Linked DNA regions of Homo sapiens. The protein of the gene in region 4 interacts with the protein of the main gene of each other region in a pairwise test. Each region holds a gene or a part of one and is shown on either strand. Other genes may lie near its edges.

The links.
Region 1: the proteins of TNIK (region 4) and SRGAP3 interact in a two-hybrid assay, tested with the Homo sapiens proteins (2 studies listed by BioGRID and IntAct).
Region 2: the proteins of TNIK (region 4) and SPTBN1 interact in a two-hybrid assay, tested with the Homo sapiens proteins (2 studies listed by BioGRID and IntAct).
Region 3: the proteins of TNIK (region 4) and CNKSR2 interact in a two-hybrid assay, tested with the Homo sapiens proteins (2 studies listed by BioGRID and IntAct).

The regions. Positions count from the first base shown.
Region 1 is NC_000003.12:9,246,626-9,254,374, forward strand, and holds the start of SRGAP3 (SLIT-ROBO Rho GTPase-activating protein 3), read right to left. Parts: upstream 3,022-7,749; 5' UTR 2,327-3,021; coding exon 2,260-2,326; intron 1-2,259. UniProt on the Homo sapiens protein: GTPase-activating protein for RAC1 and perhaps Cdc42, but not for RhoA small GTPase. May attenuate RAC1 signaling in neurons.
Region 2 is NC_000002.12:54,641,285-54,648,326, reverse strand, and holds part of SPTBN1 (spectrin beta chain, non-erythrocytic 1), read right to left. Parts: intron 5,345-7,042; coding exon 5,198-5,344; intron 4,005-5,197; coding exon 3,741-4,004; intron 3,099-3,740; coding exon 2,874-3,098; intron 2,400-2,873; coding exon 2,310-2,399; intron 2,134-2,309; coding exon 1,852-2,133; intron 1,197-1,851; coding exon 1,066-1,196; intron 1-1,065. UniProt on the Homo sapiens protein: Fodrin, which seems to be involved in secretion, interacts with calmodulin in a calcium-dependent manner and is thus candidate for the calcium-dependent movement of the cytoskeleton at the membrane.
Region 3 is NC_000023.11:21,650,418-21,655,189, reverse strand, and holds the end of CNKSR2 (connector enhancer of kinase suppressor of ras 2), read right to left. Parts: intron 2,885-4,772; coding exon 2,669-2,884; 3' UTR 501-2,668; downstream 1-500.
Region 4 is NC_000003.12:171,079,369-171,086,410, forward strand, and holds part of TNIK (TRAF2 and NCK-interacting protein kinase), read right to left. Parts: intron 5,862-7,042; coding exon 5,750-5,861; intron 4,958-5,749; coding exon 4,787-4,957; intron 3,027-4,786; coding exon 2,883-3,026; intron 285-2,882; coding exon 150-284; intron 1-149. UniProt on the Homo sapiens protein: Serine/threonine kinase that acts as an essential activator of the Wnt signaling pathway. Recruited to promoters of Wnt target genes and required to activate their expression. May act by phosphorylating TCF4/TCF7L2.

The DNA.
Region 1 (7,749 bases), about 160 Mb from region 4:
TGGGCCAAGAGTAAGTGATGTCTGGGAGTTAGCCATAGAAAATGCAGGGCCCTAGACACACATCAATAATTATGATGGTGATTAACACACAGAATTTTAAAAGAAAAGATTCCAGAGGGTTTCAGGGACAGCCATATCCTGACCTGACCTTGTGGGTGTCAATTCTAAAGGAATAAGATGTAACTCCTTTAGCCAGAATGCAAGGAAATTTAGTATTTGGAAGAGACAAGATCATTTGGACACATTTCCTGATGAATGCCTGGTAATTGGTGTATTTCTGATAAAACTCAGGGTACTCGCTGCTTAGTTGTTAAAATAAAAGATGAAAGGTAAAAAGCAAAAGGATCAGCCAGGGCAATTAATGCCTAACTGGCCCTGAAGAAAAGTTCACTGGCCCAGTAGTAGCAATCCTTCCAAAATGAGATAAGCACATTTCCTACCAAGAAAATATCATAAAACCTGAACTGTCCAAAACTCAACATCCCCTTCTCTCTCAAGGCATTTTCATGGCAACCTTAATTTTTATAAAATAATAATAATTGGCCAAATTCATTTTATAAAACATAAACTCCCTAAAAAGAGTCTATTCAAAGATTGAAACTAGGCTTTTGTATTGAGCAGTTGGGTGAATTAAAATCTCTGACCAATAAAGCGCTTATTTCTAAATTTTCAGCAAGGCTGAGACATCGTAAGTCACTGTTTTCCACATTGAACTGAAAAACCAAAGACAGGAGACCAGGGAAGAGCAGGGTTTTCTGCTCCTCTTGCCCTAGGATATGCCCAGAGGTGATGAGCACGCTGGGCTTTTGACCAGGACTAAAAGGCAAAAAGACTGTTGGTGAGACTGGAAAAAAAACAGATCCCTCCCCCCGTGGCTGCTCCACTCCCAAAGTTTCCCAAGCATCTGAAGCGTGTATGGCAGCTGCGGTGCCCAGCCTTCCCGCTGCTTTTAAGGAGGCCACCCAGCTCCCTGGGTCATTGGGTCTTCAGTTGCAGCAGCGCCCAGAAGCAGGTGTGGCAACCTCAGGTTGCTTGAGCCCCAAATACCCAACTTGCTCAACAGCCTGTGCATAACCTCAAAGATAGGCCTCAAGGTCCGCTGAAGATGCATTTTGTCTTTACTCTTTCTAGGAGAGGCCACAACACACCCTGTGTCGCAGCAAGGAGAACCATGACCAGAAAGAAAGCGGACGCCAAGAGGCACGAGCCCAGGCTTCCCACAGGGCACATCCTCAGAGAAAGGAGGAGCCTGCTGGATGGAGCTTTTAGATTTTCCTTGCCAAAGCTGAGCCTAGAACGTGTAGGGGTGGGAGAAGCCCCAGTCTGGCCTGAATGAGGATGCGGCAAGCCCGCATTTAGCCATGCAATTGTGTTCCCTTTCCTATTTCGCCTGGCTAGCGTGGATTTAGGGAGCGGCTTCTGAAAGAAGTATACACCCGGTGGCACAGAAGGTGCAACCAGCAGCCAGAGGTCATCTCGCCCTCCCGGCAGGCTTCTCCTGGAACCCCGGAAGCCAGGCAGCGCTGACCAGCCCAAACGGCATGCCGAGGTGTTGGCTTTGAATGAAAGCTGATGAACCTAAACGCCAGGGCACAGAGTGATTGGGCTGCACACTGCGAGATAATACATTTTCTGCACCAAGCTCCCTTTTTATGCCCAAATGCCTGCATTAGTCTGGATCAATATGCCCCATAACAGTTAATCCATGGCAACCCAGGCCAGCCCAGAGACACCGACAAAGAAGTGCCGCCCAGGGATGCTGCCTCGCTGTGCACATGCATGTGAATTCCGGCCCAGAGAAAGAGGCGGAGGCAAAACCACCACCACCAACAGAAACCAAAAAGGGGGAGGAAAAAAAGAGCAGATGGTAAAAAAATACCCCAATATTAAAGGGCTTTTACCATGGCAGGGAAGGGGTGGAGGTAGTGACTATCAAAATGGCCTTAGAGTGACATGTCACCGCCAAGATGATGGGGTATCAGCGACACTCCTAAAGTCAGGCATAGGATCCTCCTCACACACCTGCAATGCAGAGACTGCTGCCCATTCCATAATCCACACTCCCAGCCCCAGCGCTATCTGCAGTTGAAACCAGTCCGGACTTGTGCGGCTGCCACTGTTACTCCTCACAAAAAGATTATTGATGCATAACATTTCATAATGGCAGAGAGGAAAACGGGGGGCAGCGGGGGATGGGAACCAGAACAAGAGAAAAACGAAAGGGGAGGAGAAGGAAAACTCTCCCAGCCCGCATCTCACCTTTTATTTGGGCTTCATATTCAGCAATGATCTCTTTGTCTTTCTTGAACTTAGTTTGAGATGACATCTTCTGACGTGGCCAAAGGAACTGACAGGCTGTTTGATTTATTTCTCCTTTTCTTTTCGAGTCCTCTCTCAAGCCCTGGTAATCACACAGCTCTGGTCGATTTCACAGGTTTAGGGACTAATCTCTTTCACTTGGCTGCAGAGCAGGGAGAAAAATCCTTCTCCTTCTGGAAGGAAAAATCTCTTTACTTGCCGAGAAATGGCTCTAGTAGCTTGCCCTGGTCAGCTCCTCTTGCAAAAGAAGAATCACCCTAGGAGCACAGTAACCTGCCCCAGATTTTCAAAGATTTTTCTTCCAAAAATAATAATAATAGTAATAACCAAGCGCACTCACACACACATGCACACGTACACACACTCACGCATGCACAGGCACACTCACCGGGACACGCACACAGTTGTGCTGTGCACACAGGCATACACACACACACCCTCACACGCACACACACTCGCTGGATCACTCACACACACACATCCACGAGAGGCGCGGCGCCTCTTTGGTCGTGCAGCCAGCCCCTGGCTTGCTTTTGAAGGCTCTGCTAAGTCGATGGTCAGGTTGCCAAAGGGCCGGTCATCTCGCATCCTCCCTCCCTTCGGTGCCTCTGGTCTGATGTCCAGTGAGGATCAAAGCCAGGAGAGCGAGATGGAAGTTTTCCTGCTGCAACGCTTAAGCTCCGGTGAACACAAGGCTGGACTGCTCGCCCTGCAGGGCTGGCTGAGCTCTCCCCCACTGCTCACGTCACTAGACTCCGCCTCCCGGATTTTATAACAACTGACACATTGTAGCCTACAGGAGAGCAGAACTCACTGCAAGCAAAAAGGGGAAGAAACGCTCACAAAAGGGAAGGCAGCAGGAAAAGTAATCGGGTTGGTAAGTCTTGAGAGGCTTCTGCAAACTCCAAACATTAGCACTTGGGTTAGGGATTTTTCTTCCAAAAACTTAAGATCCTCCCTTTTTTTGCACTGTGCAATTTAATTCAGTTTCTGGAATCAACAGCTATATGATGGTTTGTCACTCTACTGGGATAGTCTAGCAGAGGGCCTGACCCATGTAGGGAAAAGCATCAATATTTGTTGAGCAGTTACTTGGTGGCAGAGACGATGCGAGGAGTTAAAGGCATGCAGCTTAGCAAAGCCACGCAGAGCAGGCACACTGGAGGCAGAACAGCTGGGTGGGTCATTGGCTTGTGGGGCTCTGGGCAAATTCATAAGTCAGACTGAGCCTCAGTTTCCTAGATAGTAAAATCAGCTCTCTTTGGAGGCTATGTTATTCATTCTTTCAACAGATATTTACTGAATGCTTACTATAGGTCTAGCACCGTTCTGGGTACAGGGATACAGCAATGATCAGAACTGGCACACACAAAAATCCCTGACCTTCTGAAGCTCCCGGGGCTCCACATCACACAACTCCAGCAGTTTCCACCATTCATGCTAATATTCTTAGTAAAAAGCACCCCTGGAGTAGAAAGCATTGTGAATGGTGCCCCCTGGAGTTGTACGAGGCAAGAGGCCCTGGGAGAGGAAGACCAAAAATAAGCACAGTAAGTATATTATATAATATCATACAAAATGTAAAGTGCTATGGGAAAAAATATTGCAGGGTAAGGAACATCGGGAATGAGAGGAGCTCTTGAAAAGATCAAAGAAAAATGCAAAGCTAAGCTTAGCACAGTCTCTGGTGCATAGCAAGCACTCAATAAACAGTAGCAACTGTTATTACCCTTTTATATCCCCCAACAACCTAACAACATAGGTATAAGCACCACTCTTTCACAGACAAAGGAGCAGAGGCTCAGATATGGGAAGTGACTTACCCAAGGTCACCAGCCTTCCAACCCAGGCTCAAAGTCTCCTGCATTCTACAAGGGAGACCAAACCCATTTCATGTGGAATTAAGGTAGAATAAGATTCATTCTGTAAAAACTGAGTCAAGCACTAAAGAGTCGCTGATCACTGGAATTTCATATGCTAAGATTGTCACTAATGTGTATTGGCCCCTGACTGTCCCCTGAGATAAATGTTCCCAAATTTCTCAAAATAGGTATAGTCTTCCATTTGCCTTTTTCTGAGTCTATAATAAATGATTCTGTTTGGACTCAGAAATGAATAGGTTATCCATGCTAGTCCATCAAGGCTTCCTAGAGGACATGGCAGCTGCAGTGGGCGTCCCCAGGCAAGTATGGCAAAGGGAGTGAGGCGGGGCAGGATGTTCTCCTGGAGCACACAGCATGAGCTGGGGCCCACAGGTGGCAAAGCACAAGACCTGCTTGGAGCAACGACAGGGAGAAGTCCAACTGGTGAATCATGGGGCTTATTATAGCCTTGTACCCGGAGGCAGGAGGTCACCAGTTCAGAAATAGATGCCACTGGCCCGCAGCCCTTGCCATCACCCCACTGCCTCACGCCTCCCCTGGACATGTTCAGGCCCTTTGCTGTCCTCTTCTAACTAGTTCAAACCCACAAAAGCCCCACGTTACCTGAGAAAGATGGGCACAGAGATTAACATCCCTGCTGCAAGTCTAGATTCTTCAAGAAAAATGAAAGTTAAAACCATACACCTTGGAGTACGACAGACTGGATCCTCTCCTGGCTCTGCCACGAGCCTTGAGCTCATGAGAACTTGAGCAAGTGGCTCAACCTGCTTGTGTGCCCACTGGTGGCAGGAACTCAGTAAATGTCAGCTATTTTCACCATTATTAAAATTTTAAATCCACAAATAGTTCTAGGAGACCTATGTGTAGGGTGCTGAGCCATGGAAATGTCACAAAAATGTCACAAAAAGCCATACAAAACCAAGGCCAAAGATGGTATAGCGCTCTGAGCTGACACCTGGCAGAGGCTGGGTTTTGGAGTAAGTCAGATGGTGGTTTACCTTCTGGCTCTGCTGTGCACCAGCTGTGTGTGGGGCTCATGGAGGAATACACCTTCTCTGAGTCTTGGTTTCCTCATCTGTCATAGGGTAGTGATCCACCCATGGCACAGGATCCAACACGATCATGGATTTAAAGTGCCTGGCATAGAGCAGAAGTCTCACAGACATAATTTCTTTTTTAGAGCTGTGGAAATGTGTTCTTCAACGTTGGAGGTGGGATCTGGTGGGCAGTGTTTGGATCATGGGGATGGATCCCTCAGGAATGGCTTGGTGTCCACCCCACGGTAATGGGTTCACAAGAGATCTGGTTGATGAAGAGTCTGGGACCTCGCTCCTCTTCCTTGCTTCCTCACTCACCATGTGATATGCCTGCACCTTCCACCATGATTGGAAGCTTCCTGAGGCCTCATCAGAAGCCAAGCAGATGCTGGTGTTATGCTGGTATAGCCTGCAGAACCATGAGCCAAATAAAACTTTTTTTTTTCTCAAGATGGGGGTCTCACCATGTTGGGCAGGCTGGTCTCAAGCAATTCTCCCACCTCAGCCTCCCGAAGTACTGGGATTGCAGAGTGAGCCACCACACCCAACCAAATAAAACTTTTTTCTTTAATTACCCAGCCCCAGGTATTCCTTTACAGCAATGCAAAATGGACTAATACAGGGCCCAGCCAAGCCAGACCTAGGACTAGAGCTTGGTCTCCACAGATACCCAGATTGGGAAAAGGAAGAGAGGAAAAAAAAGAGGAAAAGGTCTGTGTCCCCTGAAAAATCCATCACCACACACAATAAACCCACATCATCTGGAATCTTCTATCCCCAAGAAGATGTGGGTGTGACCTGGGCAGGCCCCCAGCACCAGGTCCTCACCCTTCCAGTCCTCCCCACAGCCCACCCCAGCCCTCCCGCTGCCCTCCTGTGACTCCTCCTCTGTGAGCCCACTTTTTCCTTGCTGTCTGAGAACCAACTGCTATTCCCAATGTTTACCCTTCACATGGTAGTAACAGAAACCAGATTTGTCTCCAAATAAATGTGGTAGGTGTGAGGGGAGGGCCTCTACCATGTGATTTGATCTATGCCACCCACTAAGGACCAGAAAAGCCCCTGGAAGTGTTTATTCCATTTCCTTGGGGCTCATCTCCTGAATTCTTTTAGATTTTCCTAAATTATACTGATAGCTAGTATTTACCAAGTTCTCCCTGCACACAAGCACAGGGCCAAGCACTCTATGTAGATTTTATCACTGATTTTTTGCTACAGCCCCATGAGTCCAGTGATGTAAATCATCCTTGTTTTGAAGTTGGGTAAACGGAGGCCAAGAGCAGTGAAGCAAGTTACCCAAGATCACAAAGCTAGCTAGTAACTTAATTGCACTGAAGCCCAGGTATGGCTCATAGCGGAGCCCAAGGACTTAAACAGTGCACGATTCTATCCCGGAGGAATCAGCATAGGAATAATTGCTATCAAGTAATAACCCATTTTTTCATTCCCTATAATTACATTGTTTCAATACGGAGTTCAACGTAAAGTTTTCCATTTAAAAAAAGAATTTGGGGTTAAAAATATAAGGAAAACATGTCACAAGTGACCACTAGTGAGGCATAAATTACAATAACAGCTAAACAATGCAAAACTCACTGAACCGGTTTCTTTTCCTGGTAGAAAGAAAAAAGGCTTCATCTGAAGGAAAAGTGGCCAGAATAGTTTTTGGTTGAAAGTACTTTTATTTTTCTGGTCGAATATGAACACCTCCCCCTCGCCGAGATGACTAATTTTGTAACATTCTCCACGTTGCTACCAGCAAATACATCCTTGGGCAGCTCAGTGAATAATTCTGCCCTTCAAGCCCTGCTCTGCAAAATGAAAGCAACAAGCAGAACTCAGCTAGTTGATGGCAGATTTTAATAGAATTAATAGTGATGATGACAACATGCCTAATGTGTATATATTGCTTTATATTTTGTAAGGCTCTTTCATATCATTTGTCGTATGTGGTCCTCACAATAACCCTGGGAGGGGACGGAATGGCAAGTAGGGCTGTTTTCAATACCTGTTTCATTGGTAAGGAAATACGTGGATAAGCAGAGGTTTTGATGGTACAGTTGTTTTATAACCTCAAGTTATAAGGATGACCTTTCCAACTGTGTCACAAAACCCATTAGCTGGAAAAGCTGACAAATTCAACCACAGAACAATACTTACAAAATTCTGCTTGACAAAAGCAAAGTCAAAGACCAATGGCAAGCTCAGAAACAATAGTTGCAACACCTATCATAGGCCAAAGAATAATTTTTCTAATATCAATTCAAACAAATACTCATACATGAATATTCGTAGGAGCCCAATTCACAACAACCAAAAGATAGAAACAACCCAAATGTTGTTTGAATGAATGGATAAACAAAAAATGGCATATCCATATGATGGAATATTACTCAGCCATAAAGAGAAATGAAGTACCAATACATGCTACAGTATGGAGGAACCTTAAAAATATTATGCTAAGTCAAAGAAATACACAGATTATATGAGTCCATTTATATGAAATATCC
Region 2 (7,042 bases), on a different chromosome or scaffold from region 4:
ACAAAGGACATGTTGGTGCCTATCCCTGGAGACTAGGAAGGCCACTTTCCTGGGAATCCTGATCATGAACATCTTAAGAACCTCCTACACCAACAGAGCCACTGACCTCATCTCCCCTAACCTGCCCTGGTTAAATGCACAAGGCCAATTCCTTTCCAAGTCATAAAAGGCATTTACACAAAAATCCTAAAATGACTGCTTTGGAAGTTAATACAGGGGCCTGATGAGTACCACACACTCACCTCTTCTTTTTCCTCGAAGGTGTTCTAATCACTTGATATCGAAGAGTTAGGAGGTGTTATCACTTTGTTCTTCCTGGGAGCCCCTTCATTTTACAGGTCTATGCATTCTTGTCTAATGCTCCTCTTAAAACTAGTAATTACTTTACTAAACTGGATGACTTTTTCAACCCAAGTGTAAGTGCTATGACTATCTGTATCCACCATGCAAGTCAACCTGTACTTCTGATCATTTTTATTTTTTTGAGACAAGGTCTCACTCTGTCACCCAGGCTGGAGTGCAGCAGTGTGAACATGGTTCACTGTAGACTCAAACTCCTGGACTCAAACCATCCTCCCAACCTCAGCCTCTTGAATAGCTGAGTAGTACAGACGTGTGCCACCACACCCAGCTGATTTTTTGTATTTTTTGTAGAGATGAGGTTTCGCCACATTGCCGAGATTGGTCTTTGGCCCCCTGGGCTCAAGCAATCCTCCCACCTTGGCTTGGTAAAGTGCTGGGATTACAAGTGTAAGCCACTTTACGTTGACTGCCCAGCCTAGTCAACCTGTACTTTTGACTCACGACACCAATATTCTTTCAGGAGAGCCTTGGCCAACGGGAGATATTTAACCCACAAGAGCAATTTCCTAATATAACAGTTCACCCATCCTAATCATGATAGGATGTTTTAAATGATGGGTCTGTTTTAAAAATGCTTCTCAAAGATTTGCCTTACCAGCAAGTCATGATGAATGCTGACATTTTCTTTTGGTGGGGGTTAGCAAGAGACCCTAACTGAGAGGAATCGAGAGCCGGGTCTCACACTCATGAAGCAGCGCTCACCTTTCAGGATGGCTGTCGGCCACCAGGGCCCGGCTGGTCTTGGAGAGCTGATGCACGGTCTCTGCATAGTCCTCCACAGCTTGTTCTAAGATCTGGTGCTTCTTCAACATGGAGACAGCACTCTGCTCATCCTGCAAAGACAGGAGAACATCACAACCATAGCGGTCCCCTCTGGCCCTACCCCTTAAGGAGTGACAGACCAGCTGCTCAGCAGGGTAGGAGGAAGGATCAGTAGAAAGAAAAACTCCAGAGGTGCAGTACGGACAGTGGAACACAGAAGTGTTCCAAGAGCTTCCATATGGACTGGACCACAGAAGCCTGTGCAGAAGATAAACACAAGGAGAACGCAGAATGAGCAGGGCCCCTCTCAGAGAAAAGCTTGGGCAGACCAAGTGTGCCTGGTTCGCTGGAATTCCTCAAGGTCCCTCAAGTATGTAAATGGCAGCATTCCTGGAACCTTGCAATACTTTCAAATTGTCTCCAAGCCATCCTGTATTTTGTAAAGTTTAGGGAACCTATAAATAGACAGCAGGAAGGACTCTGGCATATTTCAAAGATGAAAGGATGAACCTGTTCTTAATGGCACACTAGGATTCAGATAAGAAAATGCTGCACCAAAGGGAAACCAGCAGCTGGATTTCAGACACCTTCATGCACATGGTGTCCCCTTAACACTCAAAGGCTACAAGGGAAGTTTTTATACAGACAGAGCCGCCAGCAGAAAGTGTGCCCAGGGTTTGAATCTGAGGCTCTCCTGGGACAGGGATGCTTCCCGCCTCCTCTCACCTTGGCCTTCTCCTCTGACATCATGTACAGCTCCTGCTCGCTCATCCAGGCTTCGGCCTCAGCAGCGTCAAAGTAGTACTGCTGGGCCCTGTGCGCCTCCTCCAGCCGCCTGTGGCGTTTCTCTGTCTCCTCAATGAGGAGACCCCACAGCTGCTTCAGGTCGGCAAGCCTCTGTCTGATGGCCTCAGCGCTGAGGCTGCTGCTGTCAGTGACGATGTTTTGGCTCCTCTCAAAGATGTCGTCAATGCGAGGCTGGTGCCCCTGGATTTCTTTCTGGAGGGTCTGGAGGGAGCGGAAAATACACACAAAGGCTTGCTAAATGGCAGCCGTCTGCTGCTTATGTCAAGCTGTTAGGGCCAGAAAGAAATAGCAAGGCTTCAAAGCTCTCTGCCATTCCCAGTCTCATAATTTAGAGCAATTATTTATCAGACAGAACTAGCTCGAGCAGAAAGGCTTACCTGATTTTTCTTTATTAACAGCTGCACAGTCTGGAGGTTGTGGCCATGATCCGTGGAAGTTGCCAAAGGCATCCTCTCTCCAACCCACAACTGGGAAGAATTTTAAATAAGTGGTCAGATCCACTCAGAGGAACAAATATACGACACAAACGAGCAGTGAGGGGCAGTGAGGGACAGCAAGGGTGAGCTTCAGAGAGTGCTCAGCCCCCTCGGGAGGGCTGTCTGGGGAAGCACGCCCTTGTTCTCCGAGACAGGGCTAGGGAGAGTCTTTCCAACTCTACCTCATCCTCAAGGTCAAACTCACTGTGAGTCCTCATTACTTTTAAAAAGTCTGTTTTAGGGCCATTAAAATCCTACAGTATCCCTAGATAACGTGAGAGGACCAATGGAGTTACATTTAGGGTGAAAAGGGAAAGAAACTTTAGACCATCCAGAGCGTGGACTTTGGCAGCTCAGCTTGCCAACGTGGCCCAAGGTGAGGATGACTGAGAAGTGAGAATGTGGGCTTTAGCACAGGCAAGGGGGCTCGTGGAAAAGCCATGTGTGCAGTAGGGGTCGACTCACGATCTCGTCCTCCACATCCCTGTTGAACTGATGGATCTCTTTGGAGGCCAGCAGGTTATGCTTCCTCTCGTTCAAGGGCTCCAGCAACTCCATGAACTTGGTCTGCACGGTGAGGCGCTTGCTGTCTACCTCGTCGGTGCTCTTCCCTTCCTGACTCAGGGCCTGGGCTTGGCTTTGGAGCTCTTCGATCTCCTTCTTCCGCACTTCCATCTGATTCTCCAGCATCTGAGGGCAGAGAAGCAGCCTCAGCGCTCAGCACAGACTATCTTTTGCAGTGACTGGCTCTAAGCAGAACTGCTGGGCCTGGGACTTGGCCACACCGCAAAGCCAGCCATGGGAGCCACTCAAACATTTTGCCACTGACTTGCTTTTCAACATCAATGGAACTGTTTTCAAGTAAATCTGAGGTAAATTCATTTGCCCTTAAAGCCCTCTACGGTGATATAATATAAACAGTTATTTTTATTACCTATAAAGTGCCTTGAACAACTCAGATAACTGTCACAAATCACGATGTTAAACAACAAAGTATGAGAATATTTCTTTCGTGTAAAATGCAGAATTGAATGAGATGAACATTTATTTAACTGTTAAACGGTGATAATACCCATTAACTAAGAAAATTATCAATCCCATACACAGACAGCCAACACCCAATACTCCTAATACTGTGTCTTTCTAGTTTGGACAAGTGTCTTTCTATTCTGGAAATGTTCTACGATGCTGTTAGAGCAAGTAATATTTTGGGTTAAAAATGCCTTCCCATGGAAGGTGGACTCCTGATAATGCAGTGGGTGAGAAAAGACTCTAAGGACTATGGCTGTAAAACAGAAATACACCCAAGTCCATGATGGCTTGTCCACTTGCCTGTTGCTTTTTCAGCAGGATATTGACACTGGTCAGGTCTTTGCCATAGTCATCAGACTGAATCTGACTCTCCAGGCCGTGCAGCCATTTGTCTAGATCTGCACAGCTCTGGGTGAAAAGTTCGGCCTTGTTTGCATCAAAGAGCCGCTGGGCCTTTGTCTGGGTAGTGGATTCAAGGACTTCCCACATTTTATGTAAACCAGTGAGTTTCTCCTTCACCACAGCTTCCGTCTCAGGCTTTTCTGAAATGAGCTGCATTCCTTCCTGGAAAACAAAACCAACATGGTTGTAAATAAACAAGTTTGCTACAGAAAAAATGTCACTGTGAAAAACAAACCTAGGACATTTGATCTGTGATTTAACCATTCACTCAATACACACAGTCTTTCCACATGAAGTTACTGCTCAATAAAATCAACAACGACCCCTAGGTTGTGTACATTACAAGGGTTTCATGGGAATTAAGCAATAAATGTTACATGCTGAAATAGTCTCAACTGGGGCAACGGAATACTGAATGCTAATAACGTGACTTTATCTCCTCCATTCCATGACCAAAGATGATATACAACACATTATTATTATTATTATTATTATTATTATTGTTATTATATTGAGACAGAGTCTCGTTCTATCACCCAGGCTGAAGTACAGTGGCGTGATCTCAGCTCACTGCAACCTCTGCCTCCTGGGCTCGTGCCTCAGCCTCCCCAATAGCTGCGATTACAGGCACATACCACCAGGCCTGGCTATTTTTGTATGCTTCATAGAGATGGGGTTTCACCATGTTGGCCAAGCTGGTCTGAAACTCCTGGCCTCCAGTGATCCATCTGCCTTGGCCTCCCAAAGTGCTGGGATTACAGGCATGAGCCACCGTGCCCTGCCAACACATTATTTTAACCGTGAAGAATCTGAAACACTATAAAAAGTCTAAAAGGAGAGAAGTCGGGGGGAAGGGGGGGACTCCATATTCATCTTCAGTTATGCTGCCCAGAATCTCTCTGTGCAAGAATAACACATCATAGTAATTATTATAGCGCCTGGTATACAGTAGTCTCATAGGAAAAAGCAATTTTAAAAAATATGTATATATTTAAAATTATGTGCAATCTGTCACAGTACAACACAAATAATATGATCAAGACAGTGGAATCCCTGCATGAGAGCTCACAGTCCATCAGCAACAGCAGATGAGAGGCACAACAGAAACTAAATGCCTAGTATTCGTTCTACGATAAATCAAGCATTTTCTACTAACTGGTTGGGTTTCTGCTTTTTTCCCTTTTGATGGGTTGAAGTCAGGAACCCGTACGTGCAAAGGGAGCTATTACTGGCTGTGTAACTTACGTAAATGTACAGATAAGATCAGATATGCTGGAAAATGTGCTAAATAAAAAGGAGTTTATTACTACCCTGTTTGTTTTCTCACCATGGCCACATCAAATGTTTTAACTCACCTTCTCGATTTTGTCAAGCCATTCTTTGTTGGATGCAAGTTCTGCCATAAATGCTTGATGCTTCAACCATTTACTGTGCAGATTTCTGGCTTCATCGTAAGACATGTCCTGGGCTGTGAGCATCTTCTCATTGATCCAGAGAGACAGCTACAGAAAGATCAGAAGGATTCAGAGATTGTGATCCTAGACATCAGCCTTTTTTCCGCCTGGAAAGGGTTGTGTTTATGTCATATTATGCATACTACACACGTTTCCATGGTGACAGACAACCAAATATTTAACTTCACAACTCTGACCCGTCATGACAGGTGTCCATTAGATGGAGCTTGTACCTGAGCTCTGCTCCAAACTATATCTAACATTCATTCCAGAAGTACAAAAGCTCTATAAGCCAGTTTTCAAACTGTTTGGCACTCATAACTGGCTTTCCCCACAAAAGGCCCGTGTTTAAAATTCTACCCTAACCACTCCAAGACATGACTCTTTTTCTCTTCCAAATACCTGTGTCAGCTATACCATGTTAATCATGATTGACTTTTACTCCATTTGGCAATCCTTCTTACTCTCTTAGTTCTTTTTATTAAAAAAAAAAAAAAAAAACTACTTATTTATTACCTCCCCCTTTTTGTGGGTGCATCGAAGGGAATGCAAAAAGGCATAAATAACTTGCTCACTGTAGGGCTAAGGCAACAATCATGCCCTTTCAATGTTTCCTTCAAGTTTGAGTCACCTTCACCTCTTTTTCTATAGCCTCTAGTTCTCTAAAGAACCTTTCATTCACACCAAGAACACTTCACAGGACTTGATTTTGAGACCCAACATGTCTGCTTGGATCTGAACTCTAGAGAGCCGCACAAAGGCTGCTGGCCGCTGACAGACCTGAGAAAGGAGCTCTCTTACCGGGGTCAGCCAAACGCCAGGCCCAGACCCACTTTTGCTGGCTTCCATCCCGAATCGGCCCTGGCTCATTACTGCCTGCCTGTAAGGGCCATGCCAGAGTCCTGATTCCCGCCCCATTTGCTTTGCTAACCTAGGAAGAGCTTTTTGTTTGCCCAGGCTGAAGATACACAAAAGAATGCAGAGCCAGCCTGGAATCAGAAGTAACCAACTGAAGGGACCATGTCCCTTCTCCTGAGTGACCGTGAGAAGCCCACTTTTACACCAGTTATTGTCACAACAAATTGGCACCTTAAATCCTTCATGGTTCTACCAACAAAGATCTAGAAGTGACACATAAAACCAGTAGAAGTACTTACAGAATTAACACTTCCAAGGCCCTTCCACTCCCACTGTGGGCTGCTGCCAGGAAAGGCTCCCCGAGATTTGTTTTTTGGAAATGATGTCAAGGAGAGCGACGTGGGTCACAGGAGCCCTCTGGCTCTGAAAGTGGGTGAACTCTTGGGCACTGTCCCTATTCTCAGGCTATTCACCACACAGGGAATGGGGCAGGGGGCGGGGGTGGGAGGGGGTTAAAAGCAAAAGGTAGTGAGATTTTTGATTTCACTCTTTGTTGAGGGAAAAACTAGCAAATCTCATAAAGTCCTTTGTCATCAAAGACCATGGATCTATTAGACAATAAAGGCACGCACTTCCTACTTGGAAAAAATTATCTATGTTCCAGTTATCTGGGCAGCTAAAATCTGAAAGACTATGGCTATTCAATCTTAGGGGAAAAGAAGTTAAAGTAAAACTTAATGACAAAATTTTTCCCAGTATTCTGTACATACACACAAAACAGAAGGCATTTATTGATTCAAAGTGCCAAGGACATTCACATATTTTCGCTATTCATAACCACTTACCCAAGAGGGATTAAAAAGAGAGAGAGAGAGAGCGCGCTACATA
Region 3 (4,772 bases), on a different chromosome or scaffold from region 4:
TCTGTCACCGGTGTCACCCTAGGCTGCTTTTGCCCTGACTTTAGACAGCTCACTGGTTTTAAGTCACATTTCATCAACCCTTAGCCATAATAATCAGGATCCTCTGGTTAAGTGGAATGTCTAACCAAAACAAAACAAAAACTGATTTCTTTCATACTCTTTTAAATGTTCATTCTGCAGACATACTGTAGATTATATTTGTAAAAAAAAATCAATTTTTGGTGGTTACCCCCACTTCCCCCAAAAGAATCACAGAGAAAGGAAAGAGGAATAGGTAAAGTTTTAAACTTCGTCTCAGGTAAATGGGAAACGAGCTTGATTTTTCAGGGTCTTAGATAAGACACTTGTATATACTGAACAGGTGCTGCTTTTGGCTTGTATCACCAATGAGGCAGCAAAGTTAGAACTCGAAACTAGGGTGGGGGGTGGTGGCTGTATAATTAGGTCACAAAGAAATGTGGTAAGGACTTTGCATGAATAAAGTAGGTGCTTTATAAGGATTCATTAAGAGCTGAATTTATTTGACTTCAGTTTACAGTGCTGCCTCTCTCCTAGATTTGAAACGAATGCAATAAAATGTACAGATATTATATAGTGTTAAAAGGTCTCTTTCATGCTAGGCTAGCCACGAGTCTTGTCAAATTCATTAGTTTAATTTTTACCATTTAAAACAACAGAGCTGACTTTACAAAAGTAAAAGCTGCTTAGTAGCAACAGAGCTAGTCTTCCCGTCAACTGCTTGCTGTTTACAGGCCACAACCTGGCCACTGTAAACATGACACATCCATCAGGTACATATATTTTTAAGTGAACATACACATTTGGTCTAGTAAACATCAATAAGTCTAAACACCTGTTAACAAGCACACTTCATTTTAGGACAAGAGGTTTTTTGTTTTTTTTTTTTTTTTTTTTTTACATATACAAAATCCCACAAATTTAATGTGCGTCAATATCCATGCAGTAAATAAATGTTTTTACAAATAGAGTTCTTTTTAAATGATAAAAATATTACACTGGACCCAAAATTCCATACAAACATTAATACATGATTTCTCATCCATTTTGACTAAATATAGGATTACTGAAAATGTGCTGTAGAAAGGCCACTCTCCTGTACAGTTGTGCAAAGTCTGCAAAACGATAGTGATTCAATGGTGGTTTCAAAAGCAAAGAAAAAGATCCCCGCTGTGGAGTTTTTACTTTCTCCTCTACAGCAAAAATATTCACTGGCATATATCTGAACTCTTAAAGATGAAAGTACATTCACTGAGCTGTACAGGCAACAGTATAAAGCTGATTAGAAGTAGATTTTAGGATATAGAATAGTAAAGGAGGTTCCCTTTCTCCTCCTGAAAAAAACAGCAAATTGTGACTTGTACATTATGCAGCCAGACACTAAAAAGCAGCACAGTCATTTTCATGCTGTGATCACTTTCAAAAACAAGACGCTTATAAATGGAAATATATGAAGAGGACTTTTCCTTAGACTTCATCCACTCTATAGAACAATTCATGAAGCCAGGAAAAAAACCTCTAAATTGTTTCTCTCATAATTCAATGTGACATCTCTTTGAATGACCATCACCTGCTTGCTCCTTAGAAGGGAAGTACATTTTTATTTTTCAGTGTTGTTTTTTATAACACACATCAGCCTGAAACTAAACATATTGTACTTCCCTACCTGAAGTATAATTACCTAAGTTTAATTAGTGGACTAGGGGAAAATTGGAAACTAAGTGGAAAGTTGATTCATTTCAGTTTATACCTTGTTGTCTTTTAAGAGTTGGAGTTTAAAAACATGAGTTTGGGCTGAAATTTATATATATATATAGCTGTTAGCTGCCTTTCTGGGTGTGTTAAGTCAGTTTTTAAAAATCCCCTCTCAAATTCTTCTGTACACAATCAGCATCTCATCACTACAAAAATAAAGGAAGATTTAAACCAAGAAAATAAAGCAGCTCTATCTTCAATTTTGGTCTTAGTTACAAAAACATCTTACAAAGCTTTGCCCTGATACACCAAGTGTTCTCATAGATTTGGAATAATATTTCCATTAACTTAGCTTTCACAAGTTAATAGACTATTAAGACGAATATTAGATACCTGAACTTTTCTTATGTCGATGCTCTTCTATTTTGCTTAGCTCTTGTATGCGCATCTACATTTCACAAAAATAAAACTACAGCATTAAACTTTGTGCAATGTTTAAGAAAATTCTTAGAACATTTTAATAAATATAAAAAAGGTTTAAATTCTTTCCCACCCACAAGGATGTCTGCACCTGAAAAAATGTGATTTACTTTTGAAGTCTTGTTTATATAAAATTAACTTAAAGGGAGAAAAGATGACCATAGATAGAAAACTGCCTTTTGTGGTTTTACTACTTGAAGACCACCTGTATTTAGAATTGTTTGCAAAAGTTAATTTTAAGTCATTAAAGACAGTTGATTTTGCACATGGTAAACATAAGCTGAGCACTGTTGCATATAAAATATACAAATGCTCATTAAAGATAGTGGTATTGTGACCATATATGGTTTGTTTCATATAGTTTGGTAACATTAAAGTATAGCTTGTCAAGTGTTCCACACATTGATATAAAAACTACCTTATATACTTGTTCAGAGTACCAGCAGGTACTAGATGGTCTGAAGGCAGAATACATTTAGACATGCGTTTCAATGTATGAATGAGTGTGTGCTAGAGAGGAAGTGATTACATCTACTTCAGAAGAAATACTCAGTGGGTCATTTGAGGTGGTATTTTGACAGATATCCAAGAAAAGGTCGAGGTACATCTGCTTCCATTGTTGGAATTCTTTAGATGTCAAGTCTGGATTGTCTAGGACTTTATCGATAATGGCTACTTCCCCTTCTCTGGCCTGAAAAGAAAAAGGATTCAACAATTAAGACAGGGACAAAGTTTTATTCAAGTTTAAAATAAAAAGTTAATAGGCAAAACATTTAAGAAGCCCATAGGAGATGGCTTTGGATACTCACACCCACCCAGCTCTTTAGACTCACGTCCTAGTGTACTTTTTTCTACACCCGAGGAACGCCTCCTTTTGCCCACTGTGTGGTTTGCTTTTTCTCTTTGCCTGTCCTTTTGCCCATCTCTGCTATGGAAACCTTTTTCGTTCTTTAAGATCCAGTTCAAAAGCCTCTCATTTCTTCAAGCTGTGCTTAAACACTCAGAAAAGTTTTCTCCCTCATTTATGCCCCTTTACTACTCCATCAGTGCCACTGAGTACATTTGTCATATTCTATTTCTTGAGTTACTTTTGCATGTGTTCTATTTCTCCTGCTTTATGGTAAGCTTCTCATACTTGAATGAGACTGAGCATGGCCCCCCTGTTACCACAAATACATAATTCTTGCTGTGTGAATGTTATGGCTCCCTTTCTGTAGCACTGGGGGCCTGTAATGGAGAATGGCTCTCCCTTCCATGTTGGAAGCTGGGTCTCAGCTGAAGACTGAGCTTCATTTTGGTATAACTCACCAAGTTAAAACTATCACCTGGGGAAGATGAGAATTTCCCAGGTGGAAGGTGGGATGGAGAAGTAGGGGTTAAGAAAGTCTGAGCAGCTCAGTCCTGACCCAAGTAAAGCTTAGGGAAGTGTAGAAAATGTTCTGCAGGAAGTAAGGCATACACCTCTGGGCCAGCCAGAGTTGGGAGGCAAAGAAAACAGTAAGGTGGTTAAGAAGTTGGTCTGGCCTCACAGACCAGAATATGGAAGAGGGCTGGGACTGAGGATGTTGTGAGTTGCCTGTGGTGGGATCTGAGATCTGTGCTTGGTGAGGGGGACTGTTAAAATTCCAGGAAATAGACACATCCAGGGTTGCTTGGCCAGCTATGCTTCCCTAATGAAGGAATTCATTCCCTATTAATTTTCCATGCCAAAAACCATAGGGTTCTGTAGTTCATTTGTACCAATGAGGGACATTTTTTACAGTGACTTTTCGTTATCTTTCTTGGTCCCAGAGAATCGAGTGGAGCATTCATGTACCTGGTGATTCATCAATACTTAGTGAACTGAACATTGGCAGTAGCCATATATTTTGTCACTGGAAGAAAATACCCTGGGGGACTCTACAGAGCATAAAAGACAGGGAAAAGGGGCTGTGAGATAGAAGGAGAGAAACAGGTCTTTAAGATCCATGAATCTAACCTGCTTCAAAATGCCTGCCTGCCTTCTAAACCAGGCAGTTTAGAACTGAATGGGGGAAGTGGAGAGGCTCTATAAGGTGGGAGGGTGATGATATCTTTGGAGTAGGATTAGTCACTGCAACTATTCTTACGACTATTAACAGCACTCTCTAAAAATTCTGCTCTTCCCAAAAGTCCATTAAATTGTCCCCTGGATTTGCAGTAGTATTTGCATGACTACCAATTAAAAGCTAATGGAGTCTGAAAACTTTGCTGCTTGCTATCTGAAATTTTTTCAGGTCATTTTCTAGTTTGTCTGTCTCTTTGGTACTCACCTATATTTCAAAATTACAAAACCTCAGCAGCATGCTATGGATCTGAAATATTTCCCAAAGGAGCCCTCTGACCTTCTGTTTCCTGAAATTACTACAGCACATACTCTGTATGATAGTTCTTTTTTTTTTTAATTATACTTTAAGTCTGGGATACATGTGTAGAATGTGCACGTTTGTTACATATGTATACACGTGCCATGGTGGTTTGCTGCACCCATCAACCCATCATCTACATTAGGTAGTTCTCCTAATGCTATCCCTCCCCTAGCCCCCCACCCCCCGACAGGC
Region 4 (7,042 bases):
AAATATAAATAATGCTGAAGGTTCCAGCAACATCTGAAGCTGGTCACACATGCATCATCAATCTGATAGAAAAAACTAGGTGAAACCTAACTAAGTAAGTCTGATTGAGTAAACAGACCAAACTTATAATTCCATGTCTTGAGACTTACCAACTTTATAATGTATACAGCCTTCCAAGTCCCCAACAGTGATCCAGCCTTGTTTCTTTTCTACTTCTGGGTCATTATGTAGTATTCTGTTTCTTAACCATGAAAGATAGTAAACTCGTAGCTTATTCTTCTTTCCTGTTGAAATAATAGAGGTTTAATTTCAAATTGCTGTGACAGCTCTCACTTTTTCCTTCCCCACCTCCATTTATTTCTAATTTATTTTATTTACGTGTGTGTGTGTGTGTATGAAGGCATAATAACCAGTGTCCCCAGCACTTTGTCATTAAAATGGTGTTTCTGCCAGAACTTATGGTTAAAATAGCTCTACGTGTTTTAGACACATCACAGAATTACAATGTCTTTTATCTTCAGGTGGTTTCTTATTTGAGCATGTGCTCTTACTCTCTCTTCCCAATGCAAAGCAGTGTCTGCTGAACTTAGTAAGAGCTAACTCTTCAACAGAGTGATCAGAGTTCCAGAACATTCTAGATCAATCACATGAAGAAGTGTTGGCAACTGGGCATTTTGGCACCTGCCTTTCCTTCACCGTATAACCTAATAACAAACAAGAGGATAATATGGGTTCAGAAAATTATACTGGGCAGGTTTATGGTGCTGAAGTCACTGAAAGGAATACTGAACAAAAATAGGAAAAAAAGGATGCAAACTTGAAAACTTAAATTTCCGTTTGGTAAAGTGATCTTGGAATAAAGAATTCATAGGATGATAAAATATTTAGACAATATTGAAGAGTACACAAGTAGCAAAACTTGATATACTCCATTTGATGATTTGCACCAGATAAAATGTCCATTGGGATGACTCTTCCTAACTAATGATAAATTTAGCTCTATGGGTTTTATTTTTTGGATACTTATTTTTCTTTATCTTAGGCTTTAAAAATGTTTTATTTATTTATTTATTTATTTTTTTTTGAGACATGAGTTTCACTTTTGTCGCCAAGGCCGGAGTCCAGTGGCATGATCTCGGCTCACTGCAACCTCTGCTTCCTGGGTTCAAGCGATTCTCCTGCCTCAGCCTCCCAAGTAGCTAGGATTACAGGTGCCGCTCCCAGCATGCTCAGCTAATTTTTATATTTTTAGTAGAGATGGGGTTTCACCATGTTGGCCAGGCTGGTCTGGAATTCCTGACCTCAAATGATCCGCCCGCCTCGGCCTCTCCCAAAAAAAATGTTTTATATTTTATAGATGAATATATACCAGCAGAAGAGAACTTAGTAAAGCATTACACATGCATTTGACAGGAGAGCACATTCATCACCTAAACTAAGGGAATCATTGTGTGGTCAGTATTCAATTTTGTAACCAAAGGCCTAGAATCCACATTGATCACAGTAGCTAGGATGGACACGAGAGCCAGTGTTTCCTCCTTTCTATGCCAATATGAATCCAAGGTTAGTTCAAGAATCTTTTGCTCCTATTTTCATTTTCTCCTTTCCCTATCTGTGCCTCATGAGAAAAGGAAACTCTTACACTGTTAAGAATGAAGATGTGCCACTAACAACATAATGAAGTCTGAATGTGAATTTTCTGGTTGCATTCCCACTTTTGGCAGATATGCAGTTTTCATTTTGATTTGGTAGTATAGCAATCAGGACAGCAATTAACCAGAACAAAAGACTACATGGGATTAAACTCAAATGGCAATACAAAAGGAATTTACCTGGTTAACCTTATTTGGGGAGAATAAAAAGAGATGAAACTGAGCATTCAGTGGAAAGGTAAAAGAAAGAGGAAGTTTAGTGACAAGCAAAAGCATTTTGTCAAAATGGAAGTACAGCTGAACTTTGAGGAAAGTTCAAACCAGCATCCCTGTGTTGTCTCTTCGTGAAACAATGGCTGAGCATAAATCCATGTTCTCAAACTTGGCTGTACAATGGAAACACATCAGAAACTATGAACGCTCCTGATGCCTAAACCCCACCCCCAGAGATTCTGACTCTGGTCTGGGGGTGCAGCCTAGATTTTCACATCTCCCTAGGTGATTATAAAGTGCAGTAGCAAGTTGGTTCCATACTAGATGGAATGAGAGGGGAAGTGACGGGTGTTACTCGTTAAACTCCTTCAAATACCAAAAAGAAAAAAAACTTTCAACAAAACTACCCTCTTTTAGGTTGCATTTTTAACTTGTTACAAGGCCTTCACTTTAGTCTCCATCTTTTTTTTTTTTTCCTATATAAGGCTCTTTTTGGGAATCAGAAAGCTACAGAGCATAGCAGTAATGATTCCCACACTCAAATCTTTTTGTAGACTTGATCACCCAGTGTGCCAGCTGCACCTGCCAAAACATCAGTGGGCTATAAGCAAGAGAATTTTTGAGGGAAGAGACCAAGAAATTTCTGCTTACTAAATGTCCCTCTAGGAAGCCTGCATTTTGATATTCTGTCTGTATGTGGTAATAACTGGAGTGCAGAAACCTTAAAAACATCCGAAGATCCTTGCTGAGTCCTGACAGAGGTAAAGAGCTATAAATATATAGCCTTTGTGGTATGTCTCTGCCTAATTCAGATTTAATGCAGAGGTGAGAGACTTCTTTTTGGAGGTCAGAATTCCCAGTGTTACAAAATGTGGGCAATCTCACTCTGGCTATACTGCTATACTTTATTGTGTTGTTTGTTAGCTGGGAAGGGCAGAACTAACTGTTTCTGCAGAAATGAGGTGGATCCCTTTCCCGCTGTATGGACCTGGGGGACTCATCATCTTAGTAACATACCTGAAATTGTCACAAGGACATTCAGTCCCTCTAGCACATCCATCTGCTGAAATCGCCTCCGGTTGATCAGATTATAGACTTTGCCTTGCCCACTTCGGTCCAAAAGCATCAGGCCATTTTCAGTCCCCACCAGAAGGTTTACACCTGTAAATTTAAGAAGCACCCTAAGACTGACTTTTCATGAACTTTAATCTTCTGCATCGAGAGTCCCTATAAAATTTAAGAAACTGTGACTTGTAAATATACACTAATGGGCAAGTAGGTAAATATAAACTAATGAATGTAGAAGCTCTGACATAATAATTAAATCATTGTACTTCTGGTAATGAAATTACAGTTTTCTTTTATAAAGTTAGCAGCATTCATACATCTAGTTATTTACTACCTAATGCAGAGAGTCCTTGTCAATAGGAGCCTTAGGCACAGATGTGAAGCTAGCATAATTTGCCTTTATTCCCTGCCTGGAAAAACCACTTCTTTCTTGGCTCTCCCTATAAATCACTTCTCTTCTTCCCCAAGATTCACCCCCACCCCTATGCAGTGGTCTCTAGCCTACCCACCTTCAATATACAGTGGAATTTCCATTTCCATACTCCAATGGAAGAAAGGCCCTTCCTCCTTCTTGAATCAAAATGTAACTATCTTATGCCCCATACCCTCAAGTTTTTGCTCTTTTTTAGGGAAATGATAAACCCATTCAAGAGAAGTGTTAATAGCTGGAGAGTCACAGACATACTCACTTTAAGGGACTTCTCAGGTCTCTAAATCTAGTGCAGCCCAACACCCATGCAGTAATCCCTATTACAGAAGCACAGGCACATAAGTGGCTTTGTCTGGGTAGTTGTAATCCTAAAAATTTATGGCTAGGGAAATGTATCATCCACCCCTCAACACACACACACATTGAGAGGCTCATTGTGCAGTGTACTTTATTCATGAACATGTAACTCTCTAACTTCTCTTACGTCTTGTACTTCTATCTTCTGATCAACACAAATGTCTGCTTTTTTGTCCATATATTAATCCTTTCAGTATTAAATGTGGCTATCTTGTTCTCTTCTGTCTCTTCTCCAGAGGACAGAGCCTCTATCATGAAATGGTTCCTAGGCTTCACACTCTTCCCCGCTAACATCTCAAATGCTTTCAGCCTTTTAAAATTATGGTTCCCCAATCCAAGCCTAGTATTTTCAGTGGGTACACAGGGGACATGTCCTTCCTTAATCTGTATGAGATGTTTATAGTAACACAGACCAAGACTTTGATAGAATCTCATCATGCCTCTCCTGAGTTTGAGGTCAGCTAAAACCTGCAGATCTTTTTCACGAGAAAATGCAGATTGATGTTTTAAACTAAAAGGGAAAGTTCATTAAATTATTTGTTGTTCTTTTCAAGTTTTATCTTGTTATTGCTAGGGTTATGACCTTTAGTAATTCACAAAAATACTCTGGGCTGATTTTTCAGCTTGAAATAAAGGTTTATGCCATTATTTATGCTCATATTCCCCTTGCAGGATGTGGTATGGATCATGGAGAATGAACGTGGGGTATATCACAAAGTGCCAGACACAAATCGCCTCTGATTGATCACATTATAGGCTTTGCTTTGCCCACTCAATGTATTCAGTGGTAGCTAGTTCTCTTGTTGGCTTTAGCCTATCACTATTGTGTGACAAGGTTGCTCTGAATCTAATCTCGTCTTCCTGGCTAGTAGCGTATCAGCTATTTCTACATATAAAACTCCTTTTGGTTTCTCCTGAGGTCAAGATAGTCCCAAGTTAGGTCTCTAATACCCAGGATTCAACCAGTGTTCTTTTGATGACAAGATCCACAGGCTTTTAATGTTTGAGGGTCAGTTCATTAATGAGTGGTTATTTAAAAAAAAAAAAAAAAAAAGCACCAACATACCCCACAGAGCTGCACAAAGTATTTCTGAGTTGAATCGTTTCTTGTATTTTCTGATTTCTGGTGTGTCGCTATGAGGCCGAATGTTGGTTGGGTTTACATTTACCACCGAAATCTTTCTTGCTTCATTGAGTTTGGCCTGTTCTTGCCTAAGAAGTTCGCTAGTAAACAGAGCTTTGAGAAAAAGAATCAGAGAAGTCAGTGACATCTTAAAAGATAACTTATGGAGATGGGGCTTCAAAACACTATGATTTCTCCTTGTTTGGTTTGAATTATAGTAAAGGCAAGGAAACTCTGAAACTCTCCTTATTTTACACTTTTTTTTTGTTTTAGTAGAATAAAGTCTAAGTCATTCATCAAAGGAATCTTTTATTCATTAGAAAAACAGGCTTATAGACACTACTTGCAGAGTCTAGAAAGTCCCAAATTAAATACACCATCCCCACTCTTGTATATAGGCAAAAAAGATCTACTTTTTAAAATTGCAGTTTATCAGTTGAAAAACTGTCCTAAGCTGACTTTGATGATTAATTACTTGAAGAAGATTAGAAAGCAAGACTCCTTTAAATCAGCCTGATCTTTGTGGTGGGAAGCACACACCTAGAACTCAACACAATGTACCATACACTTATTAAGTGCCTAATGTGTGTAAAACATTGTACCCAGAAATTGTTTTGGGGAAACATTTAGTTATGTTCAGAGATCACTGAGGAACAGCTTTTCCTAGGGTCCCTATGTACCCCTGGGTCTACCAGAAACGAAATAGAAGAGATGGGAAAAAAAATGGAAAGTAATACATTTGTTTTAGGAGTCCTACAGAAATAATAATTTTAAAAAGTCTTCCTTTTAAGATAGGACCTAAGCAGTAATCAGCTTAACTACTGAACTGAGGATTAATTTCCTTATCAGGTCATACCAGAAAGGAAGACGAAGCTGTTTTTTAAACACAGGGCCCTTCTTGCTTACCTGCGGCTGATGATTCCTCATCCTCTTCATCTTCATCAGTGGGAGACGTCTGGTATACTCTGGGGTCCACAAAGGGGGTGAAGGAGGCTTTGGTGCTGCTCCCCATGCCATACTAATCAATAAGCAAGAAGATTAAGAAGAGCAGATAAATACTGCAGGAATAACAATGCTAACAATACTGTGCTTGGGCTGTAAAACGATCACAGATTCTTCAAGGTATTCAGGTGTTCACATTCTAGTGCTCTAGTCAGTGCGTGCCTGTCTCCAGCTTCTTCTGGTATTGGTTACTCACTAGTCATTGTGCATTCGTAGGACTTCATTAATTATCAGACTGCAAGAATTGTAGTGAGAAAATTACATTTTGGACCACATGTGGCACCTTAAAATCTGTAAGATCACTGTGGTGACAGAGCTTACCTCTCCCTTTCAGTAAAAGCAACCTCCTATATTGACTACTTGATCAATATGAAAAGCTGACATAATTGGCAATAAACTAAGTAAGGAAGCCTATACAGCAGTACTTTATCCTGAACAGAGTCAAACCAAGGGGCTTTCTCTTGGGGAGGAGAGCTTTGAGCCCTTCTACTCTGGCCTGGTGATGCAAGTGAATTGGTGTTGGCTCCAAAAGCTTTAAAATCCTCAATTCAGGGATGATTTTATGCTGGAATTGAAGATATTTCCTTCCCACGATAGTTTCCTTAAAAGAATAATTACATTTACATCCTTATTTAGGGACTTCATGAGGATATTACGTTTGTGAGCAATGTACCTTGAAGGCTTACTTTAAAAAATGAATCTTGGGCTTGAATGGCACCATGAAAACATGATGTCAGAAGGAGATGAGGGAACAGTAAACTCAATATCAGGGTTTTATGTCACAATATTCTAAATTTGAGTTTTGCTGAATAAGCTGCAATGTCAGTCATGTCCATTTCTTCTATTCTTGTCCTTTAACATCATAAACACATCTGTATTCAACATAATAAGCACATCTTTTTTGGATAAATATCTTTAACTAAAGGTTATTTCACTTTAGTTTTACTGTTAGGTTTTTATTTAAAAATAAAACCACCATCCAAGACCTCTAAACATATAAGGAGAAAACCACAAAGATCTAATCTGATTTAATTCAAGATTTTCTTTCCATCCTATGAAATCAAAACCATTTCATCCTCCTCAAGGTTGAATTCCCCCTACCAAATAGAACACTTTCACGTACATGTTCTCTTTTGATCTTTGGAAGATGTCTGTGAAAGAGGTAGGGCAGGCACTAACATTTCCACATAGAGCTGG